Regions from separate parts of the Homo sapiens genome. Here regions 1, 2, 3, 5, 6 and 7 are each reported to be linked to region 4. Evidence: microRNA targets listed by miRTarBase, many of them from high-throughput screens and not tested one by one. Region 4 holds a microRNA gene; each other region holds the end of a gene's coding sequence.

Evidence for each region. Region 4 holds the annotated microRNA hsa-miR-7-5p (UGGAAGACUAGUGAUUUUGUUGUU, at 1,576-1,599, opposite strand). A microRNA usually pairs through its seed, bases 2 to 8, with sites in the 3' UTR of a target mRNA and lowers its output. Matches are read on the target gene's strand: a 7mer-m8 pairs with bases 2 to 8, a 7mer-A1 pairs with bases 2 to 7 and ends in A, and an 8mer does both.
Region 1: miRTarBase lists DTYMK as a target of hsa-miR-7-5p. Seed matches in the 3' UTR shown: 8mer at 586-593.
Region 2: the mRNA of MRAS is a reported target of hsa-miR-7-5p. Seed matches in the 3' UTR shown: 7mer-m8 at 3,393-3,399 and 7mer-A1 at 3,489-3,495.
Region 3: the mRNA of ACOT4 is a reported target of hsa-miR-7-5p. The part of its 3' UTR that is shown has no 7-base or 8-base seed match.
Region 5: the mRNA of HOXC12 is a reported target of hsa-miR-7-5p. Seed matches in the 3' UTR shown: 7mer-m8 at 2,687-2,693.
Region 6: miRTarBase lists COXFA4 as a target of hsa-miR-7-5p. Seed matches in the 3' UTR shown: 8mer at 3,274-3,281.
Region 7: miRTarBase lists NCR3LG1 as a target of hsa-miR-7-5p. Seed matches in the 3' UTR shown: 7mer-A1 at 1,670-1,676.

Annotation. Positions count from the first base shown.
Region 1 is chr2:241,672,290-241,676,365 of GRCh38, reverse strand. DTYMK (deoxythymidylate kinase) reads left to right here. Exons shown (of 5, transcript NM_012145.4): 5 at 129-619. The coding sequence ends at 239. ATG4B (autophagy related 4B cysteine peptidase) reads right to left here. Exons shown (of 13, transcript NM_013325.5): 13 at 2,509-4,076. Among named protein-coding and RNA genes, the nearest start is that of DTYMK, 12 kb to the left of the region's middle.
Region 2 is chr3:138,401,502-138,405,577 of GRCh38, forward strand. It overlaps MRAS (muscle RAS oncogene homolog), which reads left to right. Exons shown (of 6, transcript NM_001085049.3): 6 at 669-4,032. The coding sequence ends at 768. Among named protein-coding and RNA genes, the nearest start is that of ESYT3, 31 kb to the right of the region's middle.
Region 3 is chr14:73,595,224-73,599,299 of GRCh38, forward strand. It overlaps ACOT4 (acyl-CoA thioesterase 4), which reads left to right. Exons shown (of 3, transcript NM_152331.4): 3 at 1-543. The coding sequence ends at 431. It also overlaps a transcript of HEATR4 not described here. Among named protein-coding and RNA genes, the nearest start is that of ACOT4, 5.4 kb to the left of the region's middle.
Region 4 is chr15:88,609,379-88,613,454 of GRCh38, reverse strand. It overlaps MIR7-2 (microRNA 7-2), which reads right to left and starts at 1,630; the gene lies at 1,521-1,630. MIR3529 (microRNA 3529) reads left to right here and starts at 1,531; the gene lies at 1,531-1,608. It also overlaps a transcript of AEN not described here. RefSeq lists an enhancer at 1-421.
Region 5 is chr12:53,955,819-53,959,894 of GRCh38, forward strand. It overlaps HOXC12 (homeobox C12), which reads left to right. Exons shown (of 2, transcript NM_173860.3): 2 at 510-3,138. The coding sequence ends at 748. It overlaps LOC105369775 (a long non-coding RNA gene), which reads right to left and starts at 609. Exons shown (of 3, transcript XR_944977.2): 1 at 524-609; 2 at 73-149.
Region 6 is chr7:10,930,318-10,934,393 of GRCh38, forward strand. COXFA4 (cytochrome c oxidase associated subunit FA4) reads right to left here. Exons shown (of 4, transcript NM_002489.4): 4 at 1,626-3,375. The coding sequence ends at 3,319. Among named protein-coding and RNA genes, the nearest start is that of COXFA4, 7.8 kb to the right of the region's middle.
Region 7 is chr11:17,372,091-17,376,090 of GRCh38, reverse strand. It overlaps NCR3LG1 (natural killer cell cytotoxicity receptor 3 ligand 1), which reads right to left. Exons shown (of 5, transcript NM_001202439.3): 5 at 1-4,000. The coding sequence ends at 3,579. Among named protein-coding and RNA genes, the nearest start is that of KCNJ11, 15 kb to the left of the region's middle.

The sequences.
Region 1 (4,076 bases), not on the chromosome of region 4:
ACTCCTGGGTACAAGCAGTCCTCCCTCGTGGGCCTCCCAAAGTGCTGGGATTACAGGCGTGGGCTCCCGTGACCAGCCTGGAACGTGCTGATGAGCCTCTTTTTCTCCTGAAACCCCGGTGGGAACAGATGGTGGATGCTTCCAAAAGCATCGAAGCTGTCCATGAGGACATCCGCGTGCTCTCTGAGGACGCCATCCGCACTGCCACAGAGAAGCCGCTGGGGGAGCTATGGAAGTGACCCAAGGCTGCCCACTGGAGACGCCTCTCCCTGCAGTCCCCCGAGAGGTGGGAGACTCGCGGAAGGCCCCGTCCCCAGCAGAGTCCAGACCCCACAACTTCAGGAGCTCTTTCCCGGCAGCAGAGATCTGCAGGCTGCCTCTTCTGCCCCGGAGCTGGGGTGCACTGGGGACCCCCGTGGTGGGGACCTTGGCAGTGTGGACATGAGCAGAGCGATGGAGCAGTCTCCTGCCCTCTCCCCTGTCCTGATGGCACTCTGTTGTATTTTCTTACTGAAGTTCAGTGATAACTCTGAGCAGTTTCATTGTGATCACTGTAAATGGTAATCAGTTGGAATTCTCCTAAATGTCTTCCAGACACTAGTAAAAAACGACCTGAAAATTGTTTGTGGAACGCTTCACTTTTCTTAGACTGAGGACGGAGCTGGCTTTGAATGGGAACCTCCATCCCAGGAGAGAAGAGCCTTCATTGGGCCCAGTAGGGCCTTCCTGGACCCTGGTTCCTGCCTAGTTGAGGGAGTCCCACTGTGGGTCTGAACAGTTGCAGCCATGCCCTGGGCTCGCTGGGTCCAGCCAGGCTATATCCGAGTGTCATCACAGCTTACGTCCTGAACTCACCTAAGTTAACTCTGCTATTTTCATTGCAACCCTGGAGCTTAACTTCTCATCCTATCCTTTATTTTTTATTTTTTTGGAAACAGGGTCTCACTGTCGCCCAGGCTGGAGTGCAGTGGCACGATCGTGGCTCACTGCAGCCTTGACCTCCTGGGCTCAGGTGATCCTCCTACTTCAGCCTCCTGAGTAGCTAGGCCTACAGGCCTTCACTGTGCCTGGGTAATTTTTTTGTGGAGACAGGATTTCGCTATGTTGCCAGCCAGGCTTGTCTTAAACTCCTGGGCTCAAGTGATCTACCTGCCTTGGCCTCCCCAAAGTGCTGGGAGTACAGGCATGAGCCACCATGCCGAGCCCATTGCATCCCCTTTTAAGTGACACTTAGAAGGAATGATTTGACACTCCTGGCAGAATCTGTCCCACAGAGCACACTCCGCATAGACAGCAGCATACAGTGTGCTGGAGTAGAAGGCAGGCAGGGTCCCCCATCTGTGGGGGCAGCAGCTGTGGGTCTCAGCACCCTTCTGTGGCCAAGAGACAAACCCAGGCAAAACAAAAGGATTTCACTCTTGGGTAAGCATTGCCAGGGGCTGTGGGATGGGCCTGGGTGAGGAACCTTCAGATGAGACTTTCCTGGACTATCCAGGTGGGCCCAGTGTCATCACAGGGGCCTTTTTTTGTTGTCTTAAGACTGGGTCTCACTCTGTCATCCAGGCTGGAGTGCAGTGGTGCAATCTTGACTCACTGCAGCCTCTCTTTCCTGGGCTCAAGTGATCCACCTTAGCCTCCCAAAGTGCTGGGATTACAGGCTGGCGCCACCATGCCTGGCCCATCACGGGTCCGCATAACAGGGAGGCAGGCGGTCCGAGTCAGGAAATGAGATGCCAACAGCAAAAGCTGGAGAGATGCCATGTTGCTGGCTGTGTGGTTGGAGGAAAGAGCCATGAGCCAAGCAGTTTCTGGCATCCAGAAGCTAGAAAGGCACAGCAACGTTCTCCCCTAGAGCCCACAGCACGATATGGCTGTCTGCCCTCCGGGTCTGGAAGAGGCTGTGCTGTTCCAGGCACTGAATGTGATCATCTTTTAGAGCAGCCACAAGAAGCGAATACGAGCATCGGAGAGGCCACAAGTCCTCAGCCACCTCACCGGGGACCCAGCAGGGCCCCCTCCGATCTGGCTTTGGGCCCTTCACACCTATACCAGGGCTGCCCACAGGGATGCACTGGCCAGAGTGAGCAATGTCCTCACCAAGCCCCCTGCTGTGCCCCAGGCATGGCCTCCCACAGGCCAGGACAGTCACTGCGCACTTGGGGAAGGCTTTGCTATGATTCAAATCGAGGCAAACCCTGCAACTCCAGGCACTTCCTGTGACTTCCTCCTGCTGAAGATGGGAACCGCCATTTTACTTTCCTAAAATCCTATTTTCCTTGCACTTTTTCCTTCTAGGGTTGTATGAGGTGGCTGATGCCACGGCTGGTAGAGAGCCAGGCTGCAGGCAGGACAGGCCCCCTGCCAGGGCTGGGGACACACCTGCTCAGGGCCCCACAGCCCGCCACGCAGGCAGCCACATCCTTTACGTGTGAACGGGCTGAAACATTCACTTATTTTTTTTCTGGAACTCACATTCAATTAGAACTTAAGGAAAAAATAGACACAAGGTTTGTTTTCTACTGAAACTTATTATTTGCCATTAAGAATTGCAAACTATACTACTAAGAATGAACAACATTCTCTTCATTAAGCCTTTTTCAAAACACACGAGACAAAGCTCCCCTTTGGTCAAGGTGTCCCACACATTACCACTGCAGCTCCCAGCACAGCGGCGCACCATGAACTCGGACGTGGAGCCCAAGGAATGGAGATCGCACCAGCCTTCCCTGCTTCCCCACCCCAACTACACCCAAGGGAGAAAGGATACGAGGAAATACACTATGTCTTCAATGCTTGGGGGGCTGGGGGTGTCCTCTGCTACCAGGTGGGCCGGTCAGTGCCGACTGTCCGGCGCGCGTCCTCGGGGATCTCTGGCTCCCCGACCTACACAAGCAGCAGCAGCAGCAGCGAGTCCTGCCAACGCCGCAGTAGCTGCTCATGAGAAAAGTGCCCACGCTCCCCAAGCCCTCCTGTTTACATTTCCTAGTGGGGCAAAGATACTTTCCCAGGACAGGCAGCAGAGCAGCGGGGCAGAGTGCACTCTGGGACCCGGGACAGCAGGTTACACAGGGTCAGGCGGTGGTGGGTGCTGGAATCGGGGCTGAGGTTCTGGAAATGCCACCAGGTGATGCCACCCTGTGGTGTCTGCCCACCACACACCACAAGACTCAAGTGGTTTTCCCCTTTTGGCCCTAAACCACCTAACACCTCAGCGGCATGGGAGGGCAATTCTCAGCAAGGCAAGGACATGGGGAAGGCTCCTGGGAGAGGCACGCCGTCCACCCTCAAGCCTGGCTGTCACAGGTGGAGGCCCCGCCCCCCCCCCGTCACCACACCTGGGGAAGCTGCCACAGAATGCCACAGCACTGGAAAGGGACACTCTGAGGGCAGGCTCCAGCAGCAGCTCCAGGACAGCCAGCCGCCCTTCTGCCCAGGCCGCCCACGCTGTGTCCTGTGCACGCCATCTTCAGGTTTCCCACACACCCACTTCCTGAATACTTTTCTCCCCAAAGCAAGGAGGAACCTCGCCTTCGTTCCTCCAACCTCATCTCCCACTGAGGTAGCCCTTGGTAAGCCAGGCTGGGCAGAGAGGACACAGCGGTGGGCGCGCCCCCCTCGAGAGCAGCCCAGTCCTTGGGCGTGGGGCCGCAGTGTGGCTGCCGCTCCTCTCACGCCAGCCTGCACAGGTCTTCTGAGACTCTGACTCAGGGAGCGCCCAGAAATTCATGTCTGTGTCTGACAACTTCAAACAGGACTTTAATTCCAAACCAACCACAGAACCGGCGCCTGGGAGCAAGTGGGACTGAGGCCCAGGTGCTAACACGGGGCTGGCAGTGTCGAGAGAACACTCTGGAAGCTCCTAACAGACGGCTCCGCGTGCGGATGCACAGGCCCTGACGGGCACTCTGAGCTGGGCAGTCTGACACCAAGCAGTAAGGCCTCCCGGGCAGCGCAGCCTCAGTCCACGAGCACAGCGGGTGGCCCTCTGGGGGGAGGCAGCACGGGGCGCAGCCCTCGGCAGGCGAGCGGGCGGGATGGATGAAACGCAGCGGCACCAGGAGCCCCAGGCTCTCACA
Region 2 (4,076 bases), not on the chromosome of region 4:
CAGGCGTAGTGGCTCATTCCTGTAATCCCAGCACTCAGAGGCAAAGGTGGAGGTGGAGGCAAGAGGATTGCTTGAGGCTAGGAGTTCAAGACCAGCCTGGGCAACATAGTGAAATGCCATCTTTACAAAAGAAAGAAAGAAACTATTTGCTCTTGGGCATTTTGCCTCCAATTAGGATGTGCTGCCATCAGGTAGCCTATGGTGATGCCTTGGTTGTGAACCTATAGTGCCAAGGTCAGGTTTTAGACATAGGAAAAGTTAACAGAAAACATGAAATGGCTTTTACGCTCAGTTGACCCATCATTTTATTTAAACTATGAAACACAGGAATAGAGGCCAGCACTCTATAAGACAAAACGTGATGTAGCTTATGATTTATGTAAATGTAGCTACAACATAATGTCAGTCATTCCCATCAGTAGGGCGATTTAGGTTATCCCCTCCCCCATCTCCCCCATTGCATTGCCTCAAGAGAAGCTATCCTGCCAGGCCCTCCTCCAGCGGCCAGGACAGCCACTGGGAGAGGGATGGCATCCCCATCCCCCTCACCCACTAACCCCGCCAGAACAGGCCTCCTCTGACTCAGATCTGGGGCTAGGGAGGAGAGGGGCAGAGGAGAAGCAAAGCCCATTCTGACTTTGTCTTTCTGTCCTTCATTGTTTCAAAAGGCAACAGATTCCGGAAAAAAGCCAGAAGAAGAAGAAGAAAACCAAATGGCGGGGAGACCGGGCCACAGGCACCCACAAACTGCAATGTGTGATCTTGTGACAGGCCTGAGGCCCTGGGCACAGTGACGGTGGCCTGGCCAGCCCTCGGGACCCCTCCCCACCTAACTGCACTGAAACCATTTCTAACCACAACCCTTGGCCCAAGGACTTGGTACAGGAAGGGAGAAGGGCAGGTGGGCAGGGAGCAGACAGGGTCTGGCTTTGCCCAGAGGGCACGGGCTTTCCCACCTCTCAAAGAGACAAGGAAGCCACCTGTAAGCAGAAGCAGCATCCAAGTGCCCCTGGCCCCCCCATGTGTTGATTCAACCCGGTTCCTCCCCCTCTCTCGGTGGGTGTGTTGTTTATTGTAACTACATAGTGTTGGTTTGATGTGGAAGTGTTTATCCACATACAAAGTACAAAACAAGCCATGAACAAGCTTCTTTCCCTTACCCCCCATCCACAATGTCTGAGCTTGGATGTCTTTTATAGATTTTTAAATTATTTTAGTGATTATTATTTTATTAAAGGGGTCTGGGCTCACTGCCTGGTGAAGTTTCAAGTGTTCAGCAGACCTCTCTGGTAACATATCTGGAATATTGTTGTTGTTTTTTAACCGAGTTTTCCCATCAGTGCCAAAACTCAACTCAATCTGAAAGTAGAGTGTCTGAGAGGACAGAAGGTAATGGGAACTGTAGCTGGAGGCCTCAGGCCATGGGTCAAACCTGGGAGGGAAAGAGACCCTACACATGGCCTAGAAATGAGAGAAGAGAGAGGTATTTACCCAGAGGATTTTCCTATGGTTGGGGATGCAAATATTAGAAAACAGATTGTATTTTGCTGAGGGGAGTGGCTGTCATGAGCATGTCAGTTCTAAAAGGGGTTTTCATTATCCTGGAAATGTATAAACTAAAGTAAGCTGATTGGCTTTGCAAACATGTTCATTTGTTTTTCAGACAGTATGGGTTAAGTTCTCTGCCCTCCCCAGGGGTCTGAGGAGGCTCTGGGTTTCTCAGATCTGTCTCTTGCTGCGTTTTCACATCAGCTGTGCTGCTTGGTGCCTCTCTGATACGAATACACTGACACGTCAAAGTAACCTAATGTGGACACCATCCAGAAAACTCCAGTTCATGCTGGATCTTAACCAAAAATGATTCAATACTGTTATCACTAAAACAGCACCAAGACCTGAAGCCATCTTCCCTTGGAGTCAACTGACTACCACCTCTATAAGCCTAGTCAATGAGCAGACCCCTTCCAGTATTTGTAAAAGTAGTACTAGGTTGCCTTTTTGGCAATTTTTATTGACCTGTTGAATCTTGACTATAAAATGATCTGAGAAGTAAGGAAGGCTGGGCTGATGTGTGGCTCTCATATACCTTCTGCAAGGGGGCAGTCTCCCCAGCTCCCTGATGATGCTCACCCCCGCCCCCCCACCTCAGGTGCTGCTGGTGTGAGCCAAAGACTGGAGTTTTTCCAGCTGGGGTGGGAGTGGAGAGACAACAGGAACAACGCTGCACCAAAGAAAAGGTCAGAATAAAAGGCAGCACAGCTGGTGACCTTATTTTCTAGATGTTACAAATCAGGTCACTATGCAAACTAGAATATCCTCAGCAGGTGGCCTGGCCACTCTGGAGAAAGAAACCCAAGGAAAGTGAGCACCCAACTGGATGCCAAGACACCCGGGTTCTGAAAATGTGCTGTGTTCCTACCTCGGCAAGATCACCAGCACTGAGGGGCCCAGCTGGAGAATGATTCTGCTACAAAAGGAGACAGTTGAGACTTTTGCTTGTTGGAAATCAAACTTCTTATTTGTCTAAATTGCCCCTTTTTCTGTTCCTAAAAGGAAGGATAAGAGAGAACATTCCAGGTGAGGCACTTCAAAGTTTCCTTAGACCCTATAGTGTTAAGAGGTATTTTAAACACTAAAAGGACAAAGCTCTTCCCAATCCTTATGCTTCCCTAAGTGGTATCTGCAGCAGTTTGTTGTGTGCAGTTTGATGGCAGCTGCAAACTGGAGGTGAGGCGGAGGAAAGGCAGGTAGGAAGGAGTAAGGATGGAGATGCTCAGAATCAAGAGCATGGCGGAGTAGGAGAAGAAGCCCTGCACACAGGGCAGTGTCCACAGCCAGAAAACTCCTGCTGGGCACCAACCACTACGAGCATACCCCATGCCCACCGTGGAGCTGCAACTCCTCGACAGCACTGAGTTTGATAGTCTCACTGGAAGCAGATCAGCTGATGTAGAACAGAGACCTCGGCCATAAAGGTGAGAAGACATAGGGATTTCAACCACACAGTTGGGACAGAAGGGACAGTGCATCTGTTCATCCATCCTGCACTTGGCCCACGTTGAACTCCATGGTGCCTGAGAGAGACTAGTTAAGGGTTGGTCTTCTGTATCCTCTGCTGTTGAGCCTCTGGTAAGCTTTCATCTCCCATGAACTCATTTCCCCATAAATGAAATGGGTAAATAATGCCCCATTTGTAGAAGTGGGCCCTCATGACTGAGGTAGCTTCCAGATAGGCCAGAGTAGAGTGTAGAGTGTGCCCCGTGACATCCCTCCATCTTCTCCTCCATTATCATCTAGCAGGGTCAGACTGGGAAACCTGGTTGGCCACGCCACACCATGACCGAGGAGCCAACTGGGACTTCTGGCTGTTTGACATCCTCATGTTCCCGTTGGTCTTCCGGAGAATAGTGCTACCCTCACATCCCCTGGAGCACAGCCTTCCTGAAATGCCCTCACCCCATGCCTTTGCCATTGTGTGCTCTCAGATTTCTTCCACTGTTTGACACCCTCCTTAGAGGGCTGCTCTTTTTTTTCCAGAGATAATCCTAGCCATCCTCTCCACTCCCACGGCTGGGGACAATGGCCACTTACTACCTGTGCACTTTGCCACTCGGGACACCTGGATGGTTTCTCTTAGGACTTTGCCCACCTCCTTCTCATGGCACTTGCTGTGGAAAATGCCTGGCTGGCCTCGTGGGGCCTGTCTCACTTTTCCAGGAGACATGACCCACTAACGTGGCAACTTTAACCCAAAGGCCCCTCAGACATGTTACAGCAAATCTGGAGCCACAGACAGGTTCCCTCCATTGGCAGCCCATTGTGTTTGAAATTCCATGTCGGGTTTACTTGGAATGAAAGATACTTGAATTATTGTGCGCCTGTGAGCGCCCAGCTTCTGTTTCATAGTCTTAACAGGTGGCCATTGTCGTGAAACGAGTGATGCCTGAAGATCTCAGTGATGTTTGAACCTTCTGTGTAACTTTTTATTAAGTCTTTGTATCTCTCGACTGATTAATAAAGAAGAGAAACACGTATCTGTCTTAGTTCCTTTTACTCCAGTATTCCTGAAGTTTTGC
Region 3 (4,076 bases), not on the chromosome of region 4:
TGAGGAGAATCAAGGTAGCTTTCTCAGGCCTCGTGGACATTGTGGATATAAGGAATGCTCTCGTAGGAGGGTACAAGAACCCCAGCATGATTCCAATAGAGAAGGCCCAGGGGCCCATCCTGCTCATTGTTGGTCAGGATGACCATAACTGGAGAAGTGAGTTGTATGCCCAAACAGTCTCTGAACGGTTACAGGCCCATGGAAAGGAAAAACCCCAGATCATCTGTTACCCTGGGACTGGGCATTACATCGAGCCTCCTTACTTCCCCCTGTGCCCAGCTTCCCTTCACAGATTACTGAACAAACATGTTATATGGGGTGGGGAGCCCAGGGCTCATTCTAAGGCCCAGGAAGATGCCTGGAAGCAAATTCTAGCCTTCTTCTGCAAACACCTGGGAGGTACCCAGAAAACAGCTGTCCCTAAATTGTAATGCATTTGTCTGTTGTTGACATGAGAGATTCAAGATCAGATTCTAGTGTTCAGTAACCCTATGTGAATCAGATGTCTCCTGGATAACATTAAAGCCATGTCTTTGTCATTAATGGTGTATTTTACGTAACTTTGTTGAATAAGCTTTGTCGTTAGTTTTACTAATGTAACTTGCTTGTTGTAGAAGATTAAGAGGCATATGACACATATAAGTGAAAAACATTCCCACCAGTTAACATTTGTGTTTCCTTCTAGATTTTTTTAGTTAATGTTTTGAGTCACAGGTGAGCTTTAAAGCTGGTGACTTTTTCCATCACTATGAAAGAATGGTCACTTAATGTTTGCTGTTCAACCATCAGTAGCAGGGTAGAATTTTCTTTGGCCAGAAACATACAGAGGGGTGTTAATATGAGGAAAGGCAGCTGACCTTTTCATTATAAACGTGAGAGAAGACTCTTTTGACAGGAGGAGATGAGACCTGTCTCTAGAATAGTTAAGTCTGTACTCTCTTCCAAGGGTGAATTACTACGATCTATTTTCCCTCTCACTTCCTCTCTAAGAGCAGACCCTGGGGCCGAGTACAGTGGCTCACACCTGTAATCCCAGTACTTTGGGAAGTCAAGGGGGGCATATTGCTTGAGCTCAGGATTTCATGACCAGCTTAGGCAACATGGCAAAACCCAATCCCTACAAAAATTAGCCAAACATGGTACACACCTGTAGTCCCAGCTACTCGAGACTCAGATGGGACGATTGCTTGAGCCCGGGAGGTCAAGATTGGTGCAGTGAGCCGTGATTGCACCACTGCACTCCAGCCCAGGTAACACAGCGAGACCCCGTTTCAAAAGAAAAAAAAAGAATAGAACTTGGAAAATCGTACTGTGGTAACCCTAGAGGAATCACTCCTTTGTCTCCTTGACATTGACACTACATAGCATTTATTATTATTATTATTATTATTTTTTGAGACAGAGTCACTCTGTTGCCCAGGCTGGAGTGCAGTGGCATGATCTCAGCTCACTGCAACCTCTGCCTCCTGGGTTCAAGCGATTCTCCTGCCTCAGCCTCCCGAGTAGCTGGGATTACAGGCATGTGCCACCATGCCCGGCTAATTTTTGTATTTTTAGTAGAGACAGGGTTTCACTATGTTGGCCAGGCTGGTCTTGAACTCCTGATGTCAAGTGATCCACCTGCCTCGGTCTCCCAAATTGCTGGGATTACAGGCATGAGCCACCGCGCCCAGCTTACATAGCATTTATTAATATAAGCGTATTTGAAAAGATAATGGCTGAGAAATTTCCAAAACTGATGTCAAAGACATCAAGCCACATATTCAAGAAGAATTGTAAATGCCAGGCAGAATAAATACAAAGAAAAACTACGCTTATCACAGTAAAACTGTTTATGGTAATTTTATTTTATTTATTTATTTATTTATTTATTTTTTTGAGATAGAGTCTGGCTCTGTCACCCAGGCTGGAGTGCAATGGCGCAATCTCAGCTCACTGCAAGCTCCGCCTCCCAGGTTCATGCCATTCTCCCTGCCTCAGCCTCCCAAGTAGCTGGGACTACAGGTGCCCGCCACCACGCCTGGCTAATTTTTTGTATTTTTAGTAGAGACAGGGTTTCGCCATGTTAGCCAGGATGGTCTCGATCTCCTGACCTCGTGATCCACCCGCCTCGGCCTCCCAAAGTGCTGGGATTACAGGCGTGAGCCACCATGCCCGGCCATTATTTATTTATTTATTTGAGACAGAGTCTTGCTGTGTTGGCCAGGCTGGGGTGCAGTGGCACGATCTCAGCTCACTGCAACCTCTGTCTCCCGGGTTCAAGTGATCCTCCTGCCTCAGCCTCCCAAGTAGCTCAGACTATAGGCATGTGCCAGCACGCCCAGCTAATTTTTGTATTTCTTTTTCTTTTTTTTTCTTTTTTCTTTTCTTTTTTTTTTTTTTTTTTTTGAGAAGGAGTCTTGCTCTGTAGCCCAGGCTGGAGTGCAATAGCACAATCTCGGCTCACCACAACCTCTGCCTCCCAGGTTCAAGCAATTCTTCTGCCTCAGCCTCTCGAGTAGCTGGGACTACAGGTACCTGCCACCATGCCTGGCTAATTTTTGTATTTTTAGTAGAGACAGGGTTTTACCATATTGGCCAGGCTGGTCTCAAATCCCTGACCTTGTGATCCATCTGCCTCGGCTTCCCAAAGTGCTGGGATTACAGGCATTAGCCACCGCGCCTGGCCTTTTATTTCTTTTGTAGAGATGGGGTTTCGCCATATTGGCCAGGCTGGTCTTTAACTCCTGACCTCAAGTGATCCACCTGCCTCAGCCTCCCAAAGTACTGGGATTACAGGTGTGAGCCACTGCACCAGGCTTGTTTATGGTAATTTTAAAACATAGCTGTAAATTCATTGGCATTTCCCTCATCAAAAGATGGGAGACCTGCCGGGTGCAGTGGCTCATGCCTGTAATCCCAGCACTTTGGGAGGCCGAGGTGGGCGGATCATGAGGTCAGGAGATCAAGACCATCCTGGTTAACATGGTGAAACCCCGTCTCTACTAAAAATACAAAAAAAAAAAAAAAAAAAAAACATAGCCGGGTGTGGTGGCAGGCGCCTGTAGTCCCAGCTACTTGGGAGGCCGAGGCAGGAGAATGGTGTGAACCCGGGAGGCAGAACTTGCAGTGAGCCGAGATCATGCCACTGCACTCCAGCCTGGGCGACAGAGCAAGACTCCGTCTCAAAAAAAAAAAAAAAAGAGAGAGATGGGAGACCTATGTCCCCTTCCTTCAAATCTGGATGAACTTGTGACTGTTTCAGTCACTAGAGTAGAGCGGCAGTGACTTTGCAGGCGAGGTCATAGAACGCCGTGAGGATTCTACCGTGTTTGCCAGGAACACCTGCCTTTGGAGCTTGAGCCACTATGTAAGAAGTTTGGGACAGGCGCTGTGGCTCATGCCTGTAATCCCAGCACTTTGAGAGGCTGAGGCAGGCAGATCACCTGAGGTCTAGAGTTTGAGACCAGCCTGATCAACATGGTGAAACCCCATCTCTACTAAAAATACAAAAATTAGGCCAGGCATTGTGGCTTACACCTGTAATCCCAGCACTTCGAGAGGCCAAAGCAGGCGGATCACCTGAGGTCGGGAGTTCGAGACCAGCCTAACCAACATGGTGAAACCCCATCTCTACTAAAAATACAAAAAAGTAGCCAGGTGTGGTGTTGGGTGCCTGTAATCTCAGCTACTCAGGAGGCTGAGGCAGGAGAATCTCCCAAACCTGAGAGGCAGAGGTTGCAATGAGTCAAGATCACACCACTGCACTCCAGCCTGGGCAACACAGCGAGACTGTCTCAAAAAAAAAACAAAAAGAAGTTTGACTACCTTGAGGATGTGATGCTGTGATGCTGTGATGAAGCTTAAAATACATGTATAAGCCAACCACAGGCACTCCTGTGACAGTCCCAACTGTGGTCAGCGTCTCAGTTATCTCAGCCCAAGTGCCAGACATGTGAGTGAAAAACACCTCCAGATCATCCTAGCCCCCAGCCATTTAAATCTCGGTGGAGACTTCACATAACCTCCACTGAGCAGTGATGTCCCTCTCAAGCCCTGTCCAAACTGCAGATTTGTGAGCAAAATAGATTGTTTTT
Region 4 (4,076 bases):
CTGGGCTTCTCTCCCGCTGTGAAGGACAGATACCTGCTGAGTGACACCAATTTGCAGACTTCTGAAGTGTAAATGAGATTTCTAATAGGACTGGCTTCCCACTGGCTTCAGGCAGGGTTAGGAGTAAAGGGAAATTTAAGACTGGAAGTGCAGAAGAAGAGAGCCAGTTTGTAGGATAGGGAGCAGCAGAAGCAGAGGCAGCCAAAGTCTCTGGGTAGAAGTGAAGGGCTGACTTGGTTCAGAGAGGTCAAGTGCCTTGCCAGAGGTCACACAGCTAGCAACCGGAAGAGGTAGAATGAGCTCAGCTAATGGTTGCATTTTTAGCATTCCCTAAATGAGTACGATCCCCAACCCCCAACTTTAGTTTGTAATATGCTTTAGTCTCCTCTGCTGTATGGATGGAGGAGGGTGGGAATATACTTAGGAATAGGGAGGGCATTTGGATTTGTTGCTTGAAAATTAATCTCCACTGAAAGTGTCATCACTGTAACTTGGTGCTCACCTTAGGGCAAGGTACCCCCCAGGCAGAGGGATCCCAGGCAGAAAGGCTGGGAGGCCAGGCAAGGTGGCTGATGCCTATACTCCCAGCACTTTGGGAGACCGAGGTGGGCAGATCCCCTGACGTCACGAGTTCGAGACCAGCCTGACCAACATAGCAAACCCCTCTCTCTACCAAAAATACAAAAAATTAGCTGAGTTGGTGGCATTCACCTGTAATCCCAGCTAGTCGGGAGGCTGAGGCACAAGAATCACTTGAACCCAGGAGGTGGAGGTTGCAGTGAGTCAGGACTGTACCACTGCACTCCAGCCTGGGACAGAGTGAGACTCTGTCTCAAAAATAAATAAATAAATAAATAAATAAATAAATAAATAAATAAATAAAAGGCTGGGAAATGCTTTTTCTGATCACTAATTCTAATTGTATTCCTGCCACAGTGGGGGATGGTCCCCAAGCACTGGGCTTTTTTCCCTTGGCCACACCTCTGGATGTAGCAGCACAGAGGCAGGTACTGGGACCAAGAAATTCCATACACACAAGTCCACTCCCTCAGCTGTGGAGCAGGCACCAGACAAGCTCCGAGGTCAGGTGTGTCCCCCCTGCTGCCAGGTACACTGAACATCCGGGAACCTCGGTCTCCAGTGCATACCTCTCGGTGCCCGCATACACTGTGGCTGTCGGGCCACAGACAATGAGGCCCTGAGCCCCAGGATGTGGAGTCACAAGGTGCCTCCATTATAGGTGCCCCAAAGTGATTGTTGGGGGAATTAGTAATTAAGGAGGGTTTTTCTCCCCCTGCCCTTCAGGTAGTGGTATGGAAGCAGTCCACTGCTCCCTGAAAACAGAGACCCTGCCCCACTTCCCTGCTCACACCATAGTTTGTCCATGTTTCTGGAAGAGTCTGCCGATGGGTGTTTAGGGTGGTGACCTGAGATGTTTTCTAGGAAACACAAAAGATACAAAAAAGAACACGTGGAAGGATAGCCAAAAAGGGGGGCTGCCCCCATTTCCTGCACCCCGCTGCGATGGCTGGCACCATTAGGTAGACTGGGATTTGTTGTTGAGCGCAGTAAGACAACAACAAAATCACTAGTCTTCCAGATGGGGCCAGCCGGTCCACTCTGTATCCAGGCCAGTTCTGCAAGGCGTTCGAGGACCACCCCCCTCCCCTCGCCACCAGGTCAGCGGTCTGGATGCTCCTTCAGGCGAGGCGTTGTCTCCGCTCCTATTACTAAGTTCATCTTTGAACACCTCTCCTCACCTCAGAATTCCCTGGAGAAATTATTTTTTCTTACTTTTCCCTTTTTTCTGGAGTGTTCTACTTTCTATAATGGACACAGTTGTTTTGTTTTGTTTTGGTGAGACAGGGTCTTGCTCTGTCACCCAGGCTGTAGTGCAGTGGTGCAATCACAGCTCACTCCAGCTTCAACCTTCCAGACTCGAGTGTTCAAGTGATTCTTCCACCTCAGCCTCCCTAGTAGCTGAGACTACAGCTAATTTTTTTTTTTTTTTTTTTTTTTTTAGTAAAGACAAGGTCTCAGTATATTGCCCAGGCTGGTCTTGAACTCCTGGGCTCAAGTGATCCTCCTGCCTCAGCCTCTCAAAGTGCTGGGATTATAGACGTGAGCCACTGCACCCAATTTGAGCATATTTCCTTTACAAACAGGGGAATTATTTTTAAAGAGAAGCAGGCAAGTGGCTCATTTCTCTCTTTCCTTTACTAATCATAAAGCATTGAACCACCATGCAGAAGAGAAACTAGAGCTTGGAAATGGTGACCCCTCTCTACTGGTGCCTCCCCCTTCTGGAAGCCTATGGGCATGGCCCATGGTGAAAATTCTTCCTGTGGTTACTGAGCCCTGGAAGCTTCAGAATGAAGTCAGAGTGGTGGTGCTGGGGTAAGCAGAGCAGGAAGAGGAAAAGGGGAAATGGTTGTGGACAGGAGGCTGGTGGAATCCTGGCCCAGTCATCCCCTCCCTGCAGGCACAGCGCTGGGCTCCCTGGTTAATTTCCCTTGCAGTGTGGCACTGGTGGAGGAGAGGCAAAGCCCCTGCTGCCTGGGCCAGCCTCTAATTGCGCTGGCAGGACACATCCGCTCCTTAATTAGCAAAAGCCACAATATCCTGGCGGCTCAGAGAGCATGGCCCTAATTGTATTTCTGCAGCAACTGAAGGATAATTACCCTTCCCTATTGGTGCTGCTTTTAATTCTTTCTCTTTTTAATTGTGAGCACTTCCTCTTTAGCCCACCCTTCCATCCTTGGGTTTATTCTCTCTATCCAGAATGGGGGTGGGGGCTTGCCTGGTGATGGAGACGCTCAGGAGCAGGAGGAGTGGGGGGAGTCATGGAGAAGACTGGCAATACCTAGCTCTGAGTCCCAGCCCCTTCCAGCTGTCAGCCTGAGACAGGGCACATCTCTGCCATGGGTCTGAGAAAAACCAAGAAGTTCTTTTGTGGAAGATGTAAGGGAGAGGTGTTCCTCCCCCAGAGGCTCTTTATGACCCTCTTCAGTCTACCCCGCAGTGAGGTGCTGGCTCTGAAATTCCCAGCTGTAGAAAACTGAGACCTCCTTTCCCCATCCTTTAATCTATCAAGAAACAGAGATGGATGTGTGGTCTTTAATTTCTTTTACAAAAAAAAAAAAAAAATAGCCCCGTGCCTCTTTGCCACTGTTGAGAGGAGGGTTAGTCCTTCAACCTTGAATTGTTTTAGAGACAAGGACCTGAGGGTACCATTAGAGAACAATGCTAACTAAGGTAACCCCTTGGTTAATAGGAGAGCTTAGCACCCTAGGTATTTCTAGGAAAAACAGGCCTTTCTTAGGGACCTGGCAAATAAACTTTGAGAAGTAATAGACAAGCTAAAATGCACCACAAAGAGAGTTTGGAGAGAACCACAGCATCTCTCTGGATGTCAGCTTGCAGGACTGACTGATCTAGCTTACATGAGCAACCCTGGCCCTAAAGCCACCACCCAAACCACTGCCCTGCTAGAAGCTCACTATGAGAGCAGGGACTCTCACTCATTATTCTTCCAAGTGCCTCGCGCACAGCCTGGCCCGTGATAAATGAAACTGGTTGGCAAAGAAGCAGAGTTCAGAGACAGAGTAGGATTGTGAGGTGTGAACAGGGTAAATCCATTTTCATTGGCTTTTTCCTTACAGATCCAATGAAGATGAATTTGAACTGATTGTGGCCCTAGTTTTCAAAATTCTTTAATTCTGGGCTCTATCTGAATTGGGAGAAGATGCAAGCAATAAAAGAGGCTGCTGTAGTCTCAAAGAAATATATTTTGAAAAAATGACCTGCCCTTGAGCCCACCAACTTCCACTCCCCACTTCTAATTTCTTTCCTCTGAATTTAGAGCTGTTCCCTTAGCAACGCTTGTTTCCATGGTTTCCTCCATGACAATGATCCCAAACCCCTCCTCTCTTTTACCTCATGACAGTAATGGATGATGGGGATCCTCAATGTGGCCACTCCATGTTACCATGGTAACAATTAACTGAGCCTTAATTTATCTTTTGTGAAGAGGGCTAGGGAATATGAAGCTTTTGATTTGGAGGGGGAGGGTCCAG
Region 5 (4,076 bases), not on the chromosome of region 4:
GGGGACAGAAAGCCCGGCCCTAGTTCTCCCAGGCGCCTCTCCCTCCACCTTCCCACAGACCCCATTACTTACATTTCGAAAGAAATGCCAGTGGATGCGTTTACTCTGCCATTCGCCCATATCTGTTGTAACTGATCCGGGATCCAGTCCTGAAGGATGTGAGAGGAAGGGACCAGGAAATAGGGAAGAAGAAAATTGGGGAGAGGTTTGGGAAAAAAGGAGGGGATAGGGACTTAGAAGGGTCATGAATAGTGCAGCAGGAGGTAGGGTTGAGGAGGTAAGAGCAAAGAATGAAAGGAAAAAAAAGAGTAAAGAAAGTGGGGGAGTTGGTGGGGATGTGGGTCTGGGTAGAAAAGACGATTCAGATGACTGGCGGCAAGGAGAAGGGAGAGAAAGGGCCTGGAGTCCAGCTGTGAGGCGAAGGTGAAAGGGTCTGGGGAAGGGCCAAGGGCACTGGACTGGTCACCCTTTGATCCTTTGGCCAACCCCTGCCATTCATCTCCACCCAGGCGCGCCCTGGTACCCGATCAACAGCCGCTCTCGGAAGAAGCGCAAGCCCTATTCGAAGTTGCAACTGGCAGAGCTGGAGGGCGAGTTTCTGGTCAACGAGTTCATCACACGCCAGCGCCGGAGGGAACTCTCAGACCGCTTGAATCTTAGTGACCAGCAGGTCAAGATCTGGTTTCAGAACCGGAGAATGAAAAAGAAAAGACTTCTGTTGAGGGAGCAAGCTCTCTCCTTCTTTTAAGGTGCAGGACACGGGCGCCAGCCCCAGACTGAGCCTGTCCCTGGCAGAGAGCAAAAGAGGGCGCCGCCTAGAACACAGTCCCCACTTAGAACGCCAGGCGTCTCTGGCAGGCCCTCCCTGGATATCCTCTTGTCTGTTTTGTTCGTGGTTCCCTCCCATACACACCCAAAACACCCTGCCAGGTCCCAGAGAGAAGGGAAGAAACCTAGCCAGGGAGAGCAGAAGCCGGCAGCTGCCTGCGGTTGGCAGGGGCAGGAAGGCTGAGGTGCTGCGGGCTGGTTTATTTGAGGCAGGACTGGGGCACTGCACCTCCGCTGAGGATCTGGAGAAGCAGCGGCCCAGATGTCCCCTTCCTCTACTTCCCTTCCATGGTCTTAATTCTCTTTGCCGTCAGGAGCAAAGAGCAGGGCCAGTGGAACCAAGGCACCTCAACCTCACAGTTCCTGGGGTTAGAAGAGGCTGGGAAGAGAGAGGAGGGTGGAGGGTCAGCGGAGAGAGCTGAGGGAGTCAGGTGTCTCTGGTAGGGCTGGAGGAAGTGGGGAACCAAGGAGGAAGTGTGGTTTGTGAGAAAATGATTAGCAAGAACCAGAGTCTGCTTGGGTCTGGGTCCCCCAGGACACCCAGTGGGCAGAAGCTTGGGCATTTGGCTGGCCGGGCTGTGGACAAGGACTATCAGCCTCATGTTCCCTCTAGGACCAGAACAGTGTCCTGGTCCCCAGCCCTCTCCTGATCCCGCTGCCCGCACCGGGCGAATGTCTGTTCATAGGTGTGCTGCCATCCACTCCTCCGTTGCCTGCGGTGGCTGCAGGCCTGATGCAGCAAGCAGGGACCTGAGAGCCCAGGGGACACAGCCTCAGGTTCAGTAGCCACCCCAGAGGTCCCCAGCTGGCTCTCCAGAAAGAAAGTGCAAGAGGCTGTAGATGGGGCTACGGAGCACCACACTGATTGGCCGGGAGAATTTCTGACAGCCACAGCCGAGGCCTCTGATTCTCCCTTCCCCGCTGGCGTTCACGGTCACTGCCTCACGGGCCGGCCAGAGGGTGGACCAGCGTAATTTACGAGGCGGGAGGAGAATTCACCCTTAAAGGGGCTACCAGCCATTGAGGTCCCACTCAGCCCCAGTTTCCCAGGCCCGTGAGAATGAAGGAGGGGGGCGCTCCAGCCCCCCACCCAACTCCCTTCTCTCTTCCTCGCCCGCCCCCCAACATTGCCCTTTGTCTTCAGAAGGGCTGCCTCCGCCTCCTGGCCTGCAAACCTCCACAGCCTAGCACATGGACCAGAGCAGAGGGAGGGGCACAGCCCTAGAACCCATTGGAGGTCTGAGAATGGCTTCTCTGAGTGGGAAGGACTTTCATCCAGACTCCTTCAGACCCCAGCCCCAGCCCAGTAGACGCTGGGCTGGCTTGGAAGAGAGGAGCAGTGAGAGAACCATCAACCTTTCTGTACTTCATTTTTATCCTTCTCCCCAAGAGTCCCCCAGCCTCCCATCTGCTGTCCGGCCCTTTCCAGGAGCAAGAGGGGTGAGAAGCAGGGCACTGATGGGAGTTAACTGCAGCCTGGACAGTGTGAAACTGGCCTGCTGGCTTGGAGTGTTTCCCATATGGGGAGAGTCTCCCCTAACAAACTCTCCAAAGGCAATCCACCGAGCTTTTTACTCTCCCACCAGCACACAGCTTCTGTACAGGCAGAGGCAAAGGCAAACACATACACACAGCTGAGCCCAGCACAGCACTGGGCCCACCCCACTCTCCCTAGTGCACTCGCAAGCAGGCAGCCTCATAATCCCCACATGGCCCAGCAGAATGGAGATAAAATCACATGCCTCCATCCCCCGCTGGGTATCTGACACCTGACAATTCCCCATCCACACATACTTGCTTCACCCATGTACAAGTTCCCCCAAATTACCACCATTCCAGCTGTCTGCAGTCTCCTGTGGTCTTCCCCTGGGCATGAAGCACTCCCCACCTTGACTGGTCACCCACTGTACCCCCTTTATGCAGCCCTTCCTGTGACCTCTGGGCTCTAGGGTGCTGGATTTGAGCTCTACCACTCCAGACTAACCTGATTCCCAATCTAATAATGAAGAGGGACCAGAACACTCTAAAAGGAGTGAGGGGACAAAGATATGCAATATTCTCTTTCCATTTGCTTTAAACTTGACTTCTGTGAGGTTCTCTGTCAATCTGTGTCTTGTTCTCTGTGTCTGTCGCTGGTACCTAGTGTAGTCCCTGTGGATAGTTGCCCTTCCCCTAGCTGCCTCCCCAGCTCTCTGTAGTGTAATTCTCCTATTCCAACGTCTGTCTTTAGCACGTTTTCCCTTTATATAGTCCTTGTACAGAGTTGCTTCATCATATTAATATTGATAATAATAATAATTAAAACATGAATTATGATTATGTGATTTTTTGAAAACAAAAGTTCTACCCCAAAATAATGGGAGTCCCAGCCTCTTAGCTGTTCTCCACTTTATTTTCTCCAGCTCAGGTGAATAATAAAAATAATAAATGTGTAATAATAATGAAGGAAGAGTGGTTGCAGGGGCAACAAAAATACATAAGCAACCAAGATCTGTTGATGAGCTACCATCTCCAGTCCCAAGCAATTATAGCAGAGAGAAAATTGGGGGGTGGCAGACTTGGGGGAGGAGAGGGAGCTTTGAGAAGTCATGGGGCCATAAAAATAATGTGGACAGCCTAAAGGAGGTTGAAACCAGCTTCAGAAAAGGAGGTCTGTGCTTCAGGAACTTGACAAATAGAAGCCAGGATAGGGGCACTGGTGAGCTGAGCTGGATACTGGGGCAGTAAGAGTAACCCATAATCCCGGGGCTGAGATGGAGGGGGGTTGGTGGGCCTAGAGCTTCAACCGTGTGGTCTTAATCCTATGGCTTCACTCTGAGATGACGCTTGTGTATTGCAAGATGTTGAGAAGGGGCTAAAGACCCCTTGGAACTGGCAAAATAGGCTCCACCTTTTGAAGCCAGCGACTCCCTCTAGCCCATGCCAGAGGAAAGCCCAGGCCCAGGCCAGTGGTAGAGTCCAGATGTGCCCATGAACCCTCTGCACCTCCACCTACCCCTTCCTTTGGTAAGACATGCCCTCTCTCTTTCTTACCCTTTTGCCTCTTCCCTCCCCTCTCTCCAGTTACCTTTTCTAACTGTAAAGCTCCTATCAAAGGAGTCTCCTCCAAATTCCTCTTCCACCCTCCTGTACCAGAATCCTAGGGGCCCCCACCAAGTCCAGACTCTGAGCCACACCTCCTGCCCTGAAATCTCTCTTTCCTTCCCCTTTTTTATTCCTATAATTAGATAAACTAGCGAATTTAGATC
Region 6 (4,076 bases), not on the chromosome of region 4:
GGAAACAAAGGGGCATGAGCAAGAGACTGACTAGAAAAGCCAGTGATGTAGGTTAACAAAAACAGTATGGTGTTCTAGGGACCCAGGAAGAGTGTTTCAAGGAGCTGTATCAACTGTTAGGTCAAAGTGATACTGATGATCAACTTGAATTCACAAACAGAGGTCACTGATAAAACCTTAACAGAAGCGTTTTTAGTGGAGTGGTGAGGATAAAATCTGACCAGAGTTGGGTAATAAACTTGAAAGAAGTAAAATTTAGTATAATTATTTTTAGCTTTTTTGGGGGGGAACTGCTCTAGTTTGAATGTATGTCCCCCGCAAACCTCATGAAATTTAATCCCCACTGGGCACAGAGGCATGTCTGTAATCCCAGCTACTAGGAAGGCTCAACGGGGAGGATTACTTGAGGCCAGGAGGCTGCAGTGCACTGTTTGTGCCTTTGAATAGCCACTGCACTACAGCCTGGGCAACATAGCAGGACTCAGTGTCTAAAAGCGGATTAAAAAAAAAGGAAAAAGAAATTTGATCCCTAATGTTGGAGGTGGTGCTTAATGGGAGGTGTTTGGGTAATAAAACAGATTCCTCATGAATGGTTTCATGTAGTCCTCTCAGTAATGAGTGAGTTCTCACTCTATTTGCTCCCAAAAGAGCTGGTCATTAAAAAGAACCTACCACTTCCCCCTTCTCTCTTGCTTCTTGTCTATGTGATCTCTGCACACACCAGCTACCCTTCGCCTTCTATCATGAGTGGAAGCAGCCTGAGGCTTTCACCAGATGTCCAATCTTCCAGCCAACAGAATCACGAGCAAAATAACCCTTTTTTTAATGTATAAATTACGCAGTTTCAGGTATTCATTTATAGCAACAGAGTAAGACAAGTACCTACTGGGAAGCATATATAAATTATGAAAACTGCAAATTTTTAAATACATGTAAATACTACCCAAGGATATCTGTATTTAAATGCAGCTTTGCCTGCAGACTTCATTAACATGAGAAACAAAGGCAGCAGTCTGTTTTCTGAATGAAGCATAGTAGGGCCAGGAGTAGTGACTCTCGCCTGTAATCCCAACACTTGGAGAGGCCAAGGCAGGCGGATCGCCTGTGGTCGGCAGTTTGAGACCAGCCTGGCCAACATGGCGAAACTGTCTACCAAAAATACAAAAATTAGCCAGGCATTGTGGTGGGCACCTGTAATCCCAGCTATTCAGGAGGCTGAGGCAGAATAGCTTGAACTCAGGAGGCAGAGGTTGCAGTGAGCAGTGAGCCAAGATCACGCCACGGCACTCCAGCCTGGGTGACAGAACAAGACTCAGTCTCAAAAAAAAAAAAAAAAAAAAAAAAAAAAGCACAAGCACAATTCTAAACATTCAAAGAAAAAAAGTGTGTTATCTTTCGTGGCAGCATTGGTATCTGATGCATTTGTAAATGACAATTTCTTTAGATTGCCATTGAAGTTTCTTAAATAGCAGTAATAGTTTCTTCATTAAGACATATCCTATTTCATGCCAAACTTCATATGTATTCTTACATTGCAAAGTCCAAGGATAGACACAAAGTAGAAAGATACTACTCAAAGAATTTTTAAGGATGCATAAAATGATCCTCAATTCTAGAAAACGTTATTACTAATTTCTTAATGTAGCATTTATTTGGAGTTGCTTAATGTTTTTCAATTACATGACACACTGTTTGTTTACACAATTTTAAACTTTGAGGTAATTTGTGCCAAAGGATCTAGAGTAATTCTCAACAGAGGTAGGAATGAAGCAATTTTGCCCACCAATGGACATTTGGTAATGTCTCCATTCTTCTCATAGCCTGTGGGAATTGGAGGGAAAGAGTGCTTTTTGTCTGTAGTGGCAGAGCCCAAGTTAGCTACTAAACAAGCTAAAGCGCATGGGATGGTCTGCTAAACCAAACTGTCTTTCAGAAATAGTCAACAGTGGCAAGGTTGAGAAACCCTGTTCTTAGAGGTTCAAATTATACCTGACACATAGGAGGTAAAAGCATGGAGTCTGGTAACTGAAAACACTCTACACACTCTAAATTCAAAACTACATGGGTGTAAATATCCACCATTTGACTAACAGAATGAATTCAAGTAATTCAACTCGTTTAACAATTTCAAAATTTTTGAGATAATCCACGTAATTCAAATACTTAGTTCAGTTCCTGACATTTAAAATGTGCTTCTACTACCCTGTAAACATTTAATTGTATACTTACGTATGAAAATCCAAAATTAATGTCACTGAATTCCTCAAGTTTCTATGATGTGATGACTTACACACACCTATGTGAAAACTTGCTATATTCCCCATCTTAAAATTATGAATATACTTCCTGGCCTTTGAAAACCTGCACCATGGCTAAGCGCAATGGCTCACGCCTGTAATCCCAGCACCCTGGGAGGCTGAGGAGAATGGATCGCTTGAGCTCAAGAGTTTGAGACCAGCCTGGGCAACATGGCAAAACCCTGTCTCTAAAAAAAATTACAAAAATTAACTGGGCATGGTGGCACATACCTGTAGTCCCGGCTACTTAGGGGCTGAGGCAGGAGGATCACTTAAGCCCGGGAGGTAGAGGCTGCAGTGATCCATGTTTGTACCACTGCACTCCAGCCTGGGTGACAGAGACTATCTCAAAAAAAAAAAAAAGAAAAAAGAAAAGAAAACCTGCACCCTGCACCAAGACTCAGCAGCCAAAATTCTCAAGATCTCTTGACTACTAGCACCATGGTTAGCACTGATAAACTCAGATTTCAACTTCAATCCTAGGACCAAAGCAACTTATAACCTTGAAAATCACAACAAAGAGATGCCAAGTAAAAACCATTGTTAAAAACTGCACACACTTCAACAGCCAGTAAGAGAAACTCAAAGGTTTCCATTTTGCCAGTGTCAGATGCTGGAGTATCCTTCCCAATTTACTTTTGTATAATTTCCAGTTCCAGTTGTTATGTATGCTCTAGTGAAGTTACCAACAGTCTATACACAAAATGGAAGTGTTTTACTAAAGCAGCTTAAAGTCGTATTTTCAAACTACAGAAATTCAAGAAATTCTTTAAATTCTAATAGTTAATTTCCTATACTCTAAAGTTCAGAGCATACTTTCAGCATAAAAAAGTGACACATATCAAGTTTCAGTTATTTATTGATTTAATCATTGTAATCTCCAATAGAGATTACAATAGAGATCTCCAACATGATTTCATGCATTTAGAGGAGAAATATTTCCTGGTTAAGTGGAAAATTGTGCGGATGTGGCTTCTGGAAGACCTTCATTCTAAAGCAGCGTTATAGTGAAACATTTCATTTAGAAATCTGGACGTTCCTTCTTCAGCTTGCTGTAATCCACATTCACTGAGTAGAACTTGGAACAGAAAAAAAGATATTTTAAGTAATCTCAAATACACAGAGACGGTACAAAGGTTTTAGAATTCTTTGTATTTGGTTTTCTACAGTAACAATTACAGATATGAATTTTTAAAAGAATATTTAACAACATAAAATCATTCACAGAAAAATACTGTACCTAAAATTCCAGCCTTCAATGATAGTTTTGGCAAGGTAAAAATATTCAATTTATTTCAGAAGAGCAGTATTATAGTACAGTCTACTACTTGGAACCTATAAGGAAAATTCTTTTATTTCAAAGTGAATAATTAAGAATTCCTTCTGATACATACTTCCAATTCGGTAAGTTTTTGCCTTAACTCTACTAAGTACGTGGAAGAATCGCCAACAGAATAGAGGATTAACAAGAATTACCTTCCCTACTTGCTGAATGAACTGCTGTAATTTAGAGGGAGAGATCCTGCAACAAAAAGAGGCTAGTAATATAAGGTACTGCTTTGTTTTGTGGTTTACATAACTTCTAAGATATTTTCTCTCTCTCACTAATTTCCTAATCCAGACTATATTCAATATCAAACTGACACTTCAACTCTGGTAATGGCTTTTAAATAATACGGTATTTTTGCTGTTTACATTTCCAACATTTCTTTATAATCAATTAATATTAATTTTTAGAAATAAATCTTACTGTGATTGCTTTAAAAAAAAAAAAAAAAA
Region 7 (4,000 bases), not on the chromosome of region 4:
TTTTTAAGAGGGTTTCACGAGTATTAACAACCTATTTGACCATTTTTAGTAGATTTTCTCCTGAGAACAATCTTTGGATGCACTGATGTCTTATGCTTTCCTAAGTGAAAGGCTCAGTGGAGGATTTTAAGAATCTTCCATTGGCTGGAGGCTGGCAAGCGTACTTTGCAATCTTCTGATTGTAACCATCCTGAGGGTTGAAAAGTATACCTCGAGAGGTGGCCCATTCTATCTCTGTAGGGGAATACTGAGGCTTTATTTCCCTTATGTAGCCCTCCCAAATCAGAGGGGCCTCAAGTGTTTTGGGACCTTGGGGCCTTCTTACTGCTGACTTAGCTCTTTGGTCTGCTAGCCTGTTTCCTTTCGCTATTTCATCTACCCGCTTCTGATGCCCTCTGCAATGTCTGACCACTAATTCTCATGGGAGGAACACTGAGGATAATAGCCTGTTGATGTCTTGATGGTATTTAATGCAAGACCCATTAGCGGTGAGGAAGTGCCTTTCCTTTCAGATGGCAGCATGGGCAAGGAGAACTAGAAAGGTACACTTGGAGTCAGTATAAATGTTAGCTGTCTTTCCTTTGCTTAGTTCAAGTGCTCTTGTGAGAGGGATCAGCTCAACTGATTGAGTGTGTGTGCCTGGTGAGAGAGGCACATTTTCAATGTTATTTAGGGTGACTACTGCATATCCCACTTTTCAGACTCCCTGTCCTACAAAAGAGCTCCCATCCATAAAGTGGGTCCAGTCTGGATTTTCTAGGGGAATTTCTTTGAGATCCTCCCTAGCGGCATAGGTTGTACTACAGTCTGTTCACAATTATGTTCAGTTTCTCCAGTTTCCTCTGGGAGGAAAGTGTCTGGGATCAGGCAAGGTCAGGTTTTTAACTGGACTGCAGATTCCTCTAGCAGCAAAGTCTGATACTTGAGGAGGCAGCTGTCTGTTAGCCAGAGACTCGCTTTAGAGGACAGCAAGCCTGCCACATTATTTATGTGAGGCATAAACAGGTTATTCCCCAGGGTTAACTTGGTGGCCTCTGGGACTAGCAGGGCCACTACTGTAACTGCTCAGAGGCAAGCTGGCCATCCTTTAGCCTCCAAGTCAAGCTCTCTACTTAAGTAACCTACTGGCTGTTGAGCTGGGCCTTGAACTTGAATTAAAACTCCCAGGGTCATTCCTTTCCTTTATGATACATAAAGATTAAAGGACTTCCCTACAGAAAGACTGGGGGCTGGTGCTTTAAGCAAGGCTTGTTTTAACTGATTAATGGCCTTTTGACCTTCAGGTTCCCAGGTCAGGAAGTGAGTTTTAGCCACTTGAATTTCTTTTATAAGGTGATATAAAGGGCAACCTATTTTATCATACCTGGGTATCTATAACCTACAAAAACCTGTAATGCCCAAGCATCCCTCAGCTGCTTGAGGGTTCTGGGGAGAGGAAGGGAGGAAATGGGATTAATCCTCTCCTCGCCTAGTGCTCTTGTTCCCTTCTGACAAGACCAGACCTAGGTACTTTACCAAAGTCTGATAGAGCTGAGCCTTAGATTTTGAAGCCTTATATCCCTTTCCAGCTAGGAAATTAAGGAGAGCCTCAGTGCCGTCTCAAGAAACTTCCTCAGTTGGGGCACAGAGGAGAATGTCATCTACATATTGTAAAACTTTAACCTGAGAATGGAAGAATTCGAAGAGATCTCTTGACAATACTTGCCCAAATAGGTGGGGGCTATCTCTAAATCCCTGAGGCAGTACAGTCCAGGTTAACTGGGTGGTTTGATTGGAGGGGTCTTCAAAGGTAAACAAGTATTGGGAGTCAGGGTATAAAGGTATACAGAAAAAGGCATCCTTTAGGCCCAGAACTGTGAACCATTTAGTTCCCTTGGATATTTGAGTTAGCAAAGTATAGGGACTGGGATCTACTGGATGAATCGTAATCACAGCCTCATGAATAAGGCAGAGGTCCTGAACTAGTCTCCCTTCCCCATTGGATTTTTGCACCCCTAATATTGGGGTGTTTCAAGGGCTACTGCAAGGCCTAAGGAGGCCTTGTGCCTTTAGGTTATCAATGCTGGCGTCTAGCCCTTTTCTACTTTCTGGCTTCAGAGGGTATTGTCTCTGGTTAGGAAAAAAAGTGGGATCCTTGAGGTGGATCCAGACTGGTATAGTGGTTATAGTCCGGCCACTTCTTCCCTGAGTTGCCCAAACCTCTGGGTTAATACTGGTTTCCACTAAGGGGAGGCGGAGTTTGTCCTGGAGCCATAAGGATGGTGGCCCCCATACGTGCTGGAATATCTCTATCTAATAAAGGAGTGGGACTTTCAGGCATGACTAAAAAGGCCTGTGTAAACAGTAGGTCCCTCTGACTGCAACTAATAGGTTGAGAAAAATATCAAGTTAAAGTCTTTCCTGAGATGCCCATCATGGTTGTGCTATGGGAGGAACGAAGGCCTGAATTGGAGAGGAAAACAGAAGCCTGGCTCCAGTGTCCAGAAAGAAGTCTACCTTCCTCCCTTCGAACTCCAGAATCACCTGGTGCTCCCGGGTAGTAACAGCAGTCTGAGCCACTGGAGCCAGGGAGTTGAGCCCCAGGACCCATCAGTCCTGCTGGACCATTTGTGAGACTGGCTCTGGACTCAGTGACCTATGCTTCCCAGGACAGTCTGCCTTCCAGTGGTCCCCATTGTATACTGGACAGGGTTGAGGTGGCTTCTTCTTGCTGCCTGGGCAGTCCCTTTTGAAGTGCCCTAGTTTGCCACATTGGTAGCAACTAGCAGGTGTACCTTGGGGATACTGGGTTTTATACAAAGTGGCCACCAGAGTCTCTGCCTTTTTCTTGTGTTTCCTCTCCTTCCCCTGGGCCTCCTCCTGGTCCCTATTATAAAAGACCGAGGTGGCTACCTTCAGGAGGTTTTGTAAGGTGCTATCTAATCCCATGGCCTGTTTCTCTAGCTTCCTTCTGATATCAGGGGCTGTCTGAGTAATAAACTTGTCTTTCAAAATTAGCTGTCCCTCAATTGAATTATTTATGTGAGGTATAAACATACCTAACAGGAGACAAGGAAGTGTGTTTCACTACAGCCTCTCTCAGCCTTTCCAAAAAGGCTGAGGGATTTTCATCTAGTTTTTGATCTATCATGGAGAGTTTGGGGTAATTAAGAGGCTTGGCTCTGGTCCTCTGTAGGCCCTCTAATAAGCACATTTGAAAATGTTTTCTTTGCCACTCATCTAAGGTACCACTGGGGTCCGAATTATGTTGTTCAAGGGGCACTGCCTCGCTTCCTATTGGGTATGTGAATGCTGGTTGTTTCTCACCTTCTTTCCTTATTGAGTGGCTATAGAAGACATGTTGTTCATCTCTGAATTTTTCTGCTGCCTGCAGGGCTACCTGTTTCTCTGTAGTAGTTAAGAGTTTAAGAGCAACATAACATCACCCCAAGTAAGGTCAAACACCTGAGTTAGGTTTTGGAAAGCCTCTATATATCTATCAGGTCATCAGAGAACTTGCCCAGGTCCCCTCTTATTTGCCCAAGGTCCTGTAATGAAAAGGGAACTTGGACCCTAGTGGCACCAGGTCCATCAGGCATTTACTGTAGGGGTAACAGTAAAGTTGGGGGTTGGGAGGATAGAACTGGAGTTGTTGATGTTGTGGCTGGAGGAGGTTCCCAGATAGGGGAGACAGGAAGGATTGGGGCATCCGGAACTGCATCCGAGTGTTCCCTAGGGGTTTGTTTCTCAGACTTTGTGGAATTATCATCTATGGACTTGCCTGATGTAACTGTTAGGAGAGCAGGGTCAATTCTACAACACTGACAAAGATCTGGGTTGTCTCGCAAGGCAAAGAAGGCTTGCACATAAGGAACCTCGGACCATTTGCCCTCCTGTCTGCAGAAAACATCTAGTTGTTGAATAGTATTAATATTAACACTTCCCTCAGGAGGCCAAGCCTCCCCATCCTGCAGCTGGTAAGACGGCCATGCCCGAGTGCAAAAGAATATGAGGTGCTCTT